Regions from separate parts of the Homo sapiens genome. Here region 1 is reported to be linked to region 2. The links are microRNA targets in miRTarBase. Many come from high-throughput screens and were not tested one by one. Region 2 holds a microRNA gene; the other region holds the end of a gene's coding sequence.

Evidence for each region. The annotated mature microRNA hsa-miR-519d-3p reads CAAAGUGCCUCCCUUUAGAGUG and lies in region 2 at 1,833-1,854, shown strand. An mRNA with a match to its seed (bases 2 to 7 or 8) in the 3' UTR can be bound and repressed. Matches are read on the target gene's strand: a 7mer-m8 pairs with bases 2 to 8, a 7mer-A1 pairs with bases 2 to 7 and ends in A, and an 8mer does both.
Region 1: miRTarBase lists SLC22A23 as a target of hsa-miR-519d-3p. Seed matches in the 3' UTR shown: 8mer at 723-730.

The regions. Positions count from the first base shown.
Region 1 is chr6:3,270,519-3,273,518 of GRCh38, reverse strand. It overlaps SLC22A23 (solute carrier family 22 member 23), which reads left to right. Exons shown (of 10, transcript NM_015482.2): 10 at 107-3,000. The coding sequence ends at 464. Among named protein-coding and RNA genes, the nearest start is that of PSMG4, 13 kb to the right of the region's middle.
Region 2 is chr19:53,711,568-53,714,763 of GRCh38, forward strand. It overlaps MIR519D (microRNA 519d), which reads left to right and starts at 1,780; the gene lies at 1,780-1,867. It overlaps MIR517A (microRNA 517a), which reads left to right and starts at 701; the gene lies at 701-787.

The sequences.
Region 1 (3,000 bases), not on the chromosome of region 2:
GGCAGCAGGGCCCCTGCAGAGGTGGCTTCCTGGTCCACCCCGAGCTTTCCCGGGATCCAGCCCGCTAGCCCACAGCAGCAATCCCTGTGCTTCCCTCCCCCTGCAGGTGTGGCGGGCTGGGGCTGGTGCTGGCCAGCGCGGGCTTCGGCATGCTGACGGCACCCATCATCGAGCTGCACAACCAGAAAGGCTACTTCCTGCACCACATCATCTTTGCCTGCTGCACGCTCATCTGCATCATCTGCATCCTCCTGCTGCCCGAGAGCAGGGACCAGAACCTGCCTGAGAACATTTCTAACGGGGAGCACTACACGCGCCAGCCGCTGCTGCCGCACAAGAAGGGGGAGCAGCCACTGCTGCTCACCAACGCCGAGCTCAAGGACTACTCGGGCCTCCACGATGCCGCAGCCGCGGGTGACACACTGCCCGAGGGTGCCACGGCCAACGGCATGAAGGCCATGTAGCCCGGCCTGCGGAACCCGGGGCTCCAGGGTCTGGGGCAGCTTGGGCACAGGTTTACAGACCAGGGACCGAACACGCAGCCAGGGGTGGGAAAGCTGCCTCAGCCAAGCTGAGCCTCTCAACTGGTGTGGGGAAATCCTGTCTTTCCAAAAGTCCAAGGAGCGCGGGTCGGAGGAGACAAACTCTTTGGAAATAACCCTTTCAAGACTTTCTTTTCTGCCGTTAAATGTGTGTATTTATTTTGGTCATTTTTACGAGAAGCACTTTATTCCCTCTCCCTCTCACTGATCACAAATGGAATCACCTCCCTGGGCAGCGAGACGCAGTTGCTCTGGGAAGATGCCACAGTGACCAGGGCCATGGCCGGTCCCTCTGGGGAGATGGGACACGGCTCCTGGCAGCACCCAGGAGCCCCCCAGGCTGCCTGCCTGCGTGCAGAGGCAGGAGAGGACCGTGGAGCGTTTCCGGGACTGCATTTTAGACGGAGTGAAATGTACATGAATTTGGCTTTTGCTAGAGTCTGTGTATGGTTTTTTAAGGTCCTTTTTCCCTTTCTGTTTGTAAGGTAAGAGCTTCTGTTCGTGTGCAGGGAAAGCAGCTCACAGACGCCGTTAAAACCAGCTTCATCTTTCCTTCAGGATCATCCTTTTGTACTTGATGCTGGAAGCTCTTGGAGAAAAAGCTTAAACATTTCACCAGAAATCTTAATTGAGCAGCAGTCATATCGCCACAGCTTTGTGAGTACACAGCTAACAGATGCGTCGAGACCTGAGATGTGCTCGTTTTTATTCCTCCTCTCCCAGATTGGCTCCAGCAGAAAAGTCCCTCGTGCACAGGCAGCTCTTGTGCCGGCACTACTTGAAAACATGGCTACTTTCTAAGCTACAAACCATTAGAAAATAACTCAAAAAGATGGCAGAGGCAAATCCACAGAAGGGGGGCTGCCCTCCACACACACACGCCCGTCACCCACACCTTGAGCACACACCATGAAGATCACCAGCTTGGATGGCCGTCACCTCAGACATCACTCCAGGGAGCACCCGCAGGAGCTGGGCCCCCTCACGCCTGCCTTCCTGGGCCAGCTTCCTGCTTGCAGTCACTCGCATAGCACAGAGGTGGGGCTTCGGGCAGGGAGCGGAGATTCCTCATAGGTGAGTCCAAATGACCTCCAGCCTCTCGAAGGCATCAAGACAAATTGAAAGAAAGCAATAACTCACCAAAGCTCAACGCTGCCCCTGCCTCGACCTCCATGGGTCTCTTCGTGTTCCTCGTTTCACCCCAGAAAGTGGAGGTTTCCTCTTGGCATTTTCGGAGGAAACTTGTAGGACACCCAAGGCGACTAAGAGACAGCCTCCTTGGCAAGGGCAGGCACCACTTTGTAGCAACTTGGGCACCAGCTTTTCTGGACAGCCTGGCTTCTTACTGGCATTGTCCAACTCATCCCTTCTCGAAGCATGTCTTTGCCATGGGCTGTGTCCTTCCAGGGAAATTGTGGTCTCGGGCCTGGGTGAGACAATGAAGTGACTTCCAACCGACAGTTGCTAGAATTCACAGGGCAGAAAAGGGGTTGACCTTCTCCCCTTCTGGCTTTCCACCCGGCCTGCTGCTTGCTGTCGCCACTCATGTCTCCTCCACATGCGGTCCACACATCAGTAAGGGCCTGGAGATGTGTAAAGACACAGCAAGGGGCAAGCAGACTCTTGGCCACGTGTTTCCAGTGGCTGGACCACGCCGACACCTGGGATCTTGAGATACCCAGGAAGGGAGGCTGTCTGGCCAGCCTCTCCCTGCCTCCACTTGCTCCACGTCCAGCTCCTCACCTTCCCTCTTTTTTAAAGTCACATTTCCATGTTTCAACATTAGTTTGCATTCACCTTTACAAAGGCCTTTCTTTAGATCTGTGCAGCCTTTGCGTGCCAAACTTGTGAAATTCCTTTTACCTTTTTTGGAGTACTTGCTATAAAGCCACCTGTCAACAAACCCCCATTATGTACAGAATAGGACCTATCCAGTAGCCAGGCCAGTAGGCAGTTGGGGAAGGTGGGAAGGATCCAGCGAGGCCCCTGAGCCTGCACCTGGACAGGTGTACGTCTGCACCCATCACCCTCAGCACCAGGCCACCCTGCAGTCCACTTACTGTACTGTGTTGTGGAAGGATATGCTAAGTGATGAAAGTTGCGAGCAGTCTCACTGGTCGTGTAAACTTTTTTTTTTTTTTGGAAATTGAAGCTGTAGAGTGCTGCCCGAAATCTCTAGGAAGTTGGTGGCAAGGGACAGCACTCACACTCTTCTGGTCATGATCTCTGATCTCCACCTCAAATGACAATAAAAAACTGGTCCAACGAAGACACTGCTCAGCACTTCAGCCATCAGGACTAATCCATCGATGACTGGAAAAGAGGCTAGCTTTGAGGAAAACAGCCTGGGCTCTTGGGAGCAGAGTCCAGTGGGTGTGAGGCTGACTTGCCGACGGTCGGCAGGTAATGGCTCTCAGCCGGCGAGGCGGTCCCACAGCTCTCCTCCCAGGGCAGCCTG
Region 2 (3,196 bases):
GTAGCTAGAATTACGGGAGCCCACCACCACACCTGGCTACTTTTTGTTTTTTGTTTTTTGTTTTTTTTTTAGTAGAGATGGGATTTCACCATGTTTGCCAGGCTGGTCTCAAACCCCTGACCTCAAGTTAGCCACCGGCCTCTGCCTCCCAAAGTGCTGGGATTACAGGCATGAGCCACCACGCCTGGCCTAATTTTTATATTTTCAGCAGAGGCGGGGTTTCACCATGTTGGCCAGGCTGGTTGCGAACTCCTGACCTCAGGTGATCTGCCCACCTCAGCCTCCCAAAGTGCTAAGATTACAGGCGTGAGCCACCACACATGGCCATTAACACCTTTTAGTCCATGGAAATTATTCTGGCACTGATTTATAAAGCCTCATGTGGGGTCAGGTAGAGTCAAAGGGGGACCTCAGTGTCCCTTGCAGATGGGATGTGCTCAGCAAGAGCACGGAGGTGGAGTGCATGGGGTTTGAGTTTTCACTGGGGAAATGAAACCAACATCTTGGGTGCATGACCAGGTCATATATGCAGTCATATATGCAATATGCATGGTGGTGGGTGCCTCTAATCCCAGCTACTCAGGAGGCTGACGCAGAAGAATCGCTTGAACCCAGGAGGCAGAAGTTGCCATGAGCCGAGATCCCACCACCGCATCCAGCCTGGGCGGCAGAGTGAGACTCCGTGTCAAAAAAAAGAAGATCTCAGGCAGTGACCCTCTAGATGGAAGCACTGTCTGTTGTATAAAAGAAAAGATCGTGCATCCCTTTAGAGTGTTACTGTTTGAGACAAGCAACGTTGAAGATGCTGCTGATCTTGGTAATACATTTGCAGAGCGTGCTTATCATCAGACTTGCATGATGTCGGGGTTCTGTTTGTGATTTGAAATTTTTCCAAGACAGGCTTTCTATTGCCCAGGCGTGGGTGGATAGCACCTTCCACCAAGATTTCTTGGGCTTAAGTGGTCCTCTTTTTATTTTTTGATTTTTTGAGACACACTCTTGTTTCGTTGGGAGTGCAGTAGCAGGATCTCTGCTCACCGGAAACTCCACCTCTCGGGTTCCAGTGATTCTCCCACCTCAGCCTGCCGAATTGTTGGGAATTCAGGCATCAGGCACCCACCATCGTGTCCTGCACTCTTGCTGCCCATCCTGGAGAGCACTGGCATGATCTAGGCTCACTGCAACCTCCGCCTCCTGGGTTCGAGTGATGCTTCTGCCTCAGCCTCCCAGGTAGTTGGGATTACAGGCACCTACTGCCCCACCCAGCTAATTTTTATGTTTTTAGTAGAGACGGGTTTCACCATGTTGGCCAGGCTAGTCTTGAACTCCCGCTTTCAGGTGATCCACTAGCCTGTGGTCTATCCTGGAGGATGTTTGTGTGTGTGACAATGTATATTCTTCAACATCTTAGACTCCATTTTGGATGCTCCCATCGGAACTATGTATCCCTGTGCTGGAACTCAAGTGAACACTCAGCTCAAAGTCCATTGCTGTTCTCTAGAAATCCAGCCCAGTTCTCTTGGTTAAATATAAGGTATGTGTAGTAGGCATTGCTTTTTCTCTTTAGAGGCAAAACTCAGGAGGGTTGCCCCTTGATGAACAAGGCTAACCTGCAGAGCCTTTGAAGAAAGGAACTGGAGATGGTCCTTTTAGGGGTTTATGTTCTGGATTCTAGAAAACAGGCAAACAGGGCCAATAAATGCATCTTTATTGTTGTGGCCATTTTAACCTGGTCAAGGAAGATTTCAACAAAAAACCCAGAGTGCTGGAGCAAGAAGATCCCATGCTGTGACCCTCCAAAGGGAAGCGCTTTCTGTTTGTTTTCTCTTAAACAAAGTGCCTCCCTTTAGAGTGTTACCGTTTGGGAAAAGCCACGTTGAAGATGATGCTGATCTTGGTAATACATTTGCAGACCATGCTTGTAATCAGACTTGGATGATGTTGGGAGTCTGTTTTTTTGTTTGTTTGTTTGGTTGGTTTTTTTGTTTGTTAGGTTTTTGTTTTTTGTTTTGGTGTGTGTGTTTTGTTTTGTGTTTTTTTTTTTTTCTAAGACAAGGTCTCTGTTGCCCAGGAGAGACTAGAGAAGCACTTTTTAAGATAGGCCTGTTGGGCTCAGATGGTCCTTTTATGGGATACAGTCTTGCTCTGTGACCCAGACTGGAGTGCAGTGGCGCGATCTTGGCTCAATGCAACCTCCACCTCCCGGGTTCGAGTGATTCTCCTGCCTCAGCTTCCTGGGTAGCTGGGATTACAGATGCCTGACATCACACTCGGCTAATATTTGTATTTTTCTTTTTTATTCATTCATTCATTTTTGAGATGGAGTGTTGCTGTCACCCAGCCTGGAGGGCAGTGGCATGATCCCGGCTGACTCCAACCTCTGCCTCTCAGGTTCAAGCCATTCTCCTGCCTCAGTCTCCTGAGTAGGTGGAATTACAGGCACCCACCACTACAACCAGCTACTTTTTGATTTTGATTTTTTTTTTTTTTTTTTTTTTTTAGTAAAGGTGGGGTTTCACCATGTTGGCCAGGCTAGTCTCAAACCCCTGACCTCAAGTGAGCCGCTGGCCTCGGCCTCCCAAAGTGCTGAGAATACAGGCGTGAGCCACCGGGCACAGCCATCAGCACCTTTTACTTTATGGAAATTTTTCTGGCACTGGTATAGAACCTCACGTGGGGTCAGGTGGAGTTGAGGGGACCTCAGTGTCCCTGCAGATGGGATGAGCAAGAGCACGGAGGTGGAGTGCATGGGGCTTCAGTGTTTATTGGGGAAATGAAGCTGAAATCTGGGTGCATGACCAGGAGATAAATGCATGAGACGGCGGTCTCACTATGCTGCCCTGGCTGAAGTGGGCTTAGATCCTCCTGCCTCTGCCCCTCCCCAGTCCTTGGTAGATGGGACCACATGTGAATATTAACCCCCCATGCACAGACAAGAAGAAAGTAAGGACTGTTCTTTGGTTCATACCTGACCCCAGTTAAACTTGTATTTTAGATAAACAATGTATTTGAGATGTACTTGAACAACAAACGATTTGCTGTTCAGGTGTGGGCATCTTTGTTTTGTTTTTTTTTTTCCTAATTTTAAATATGGGACTAGTGTGCATATGGTGGCTCTTGTCTGTAATTCCTGCACTTTGTGAGGCTGAGACAGGAGGATCACCTGAGATCAGTTGTTCGAGACCAGCCTGGCCAA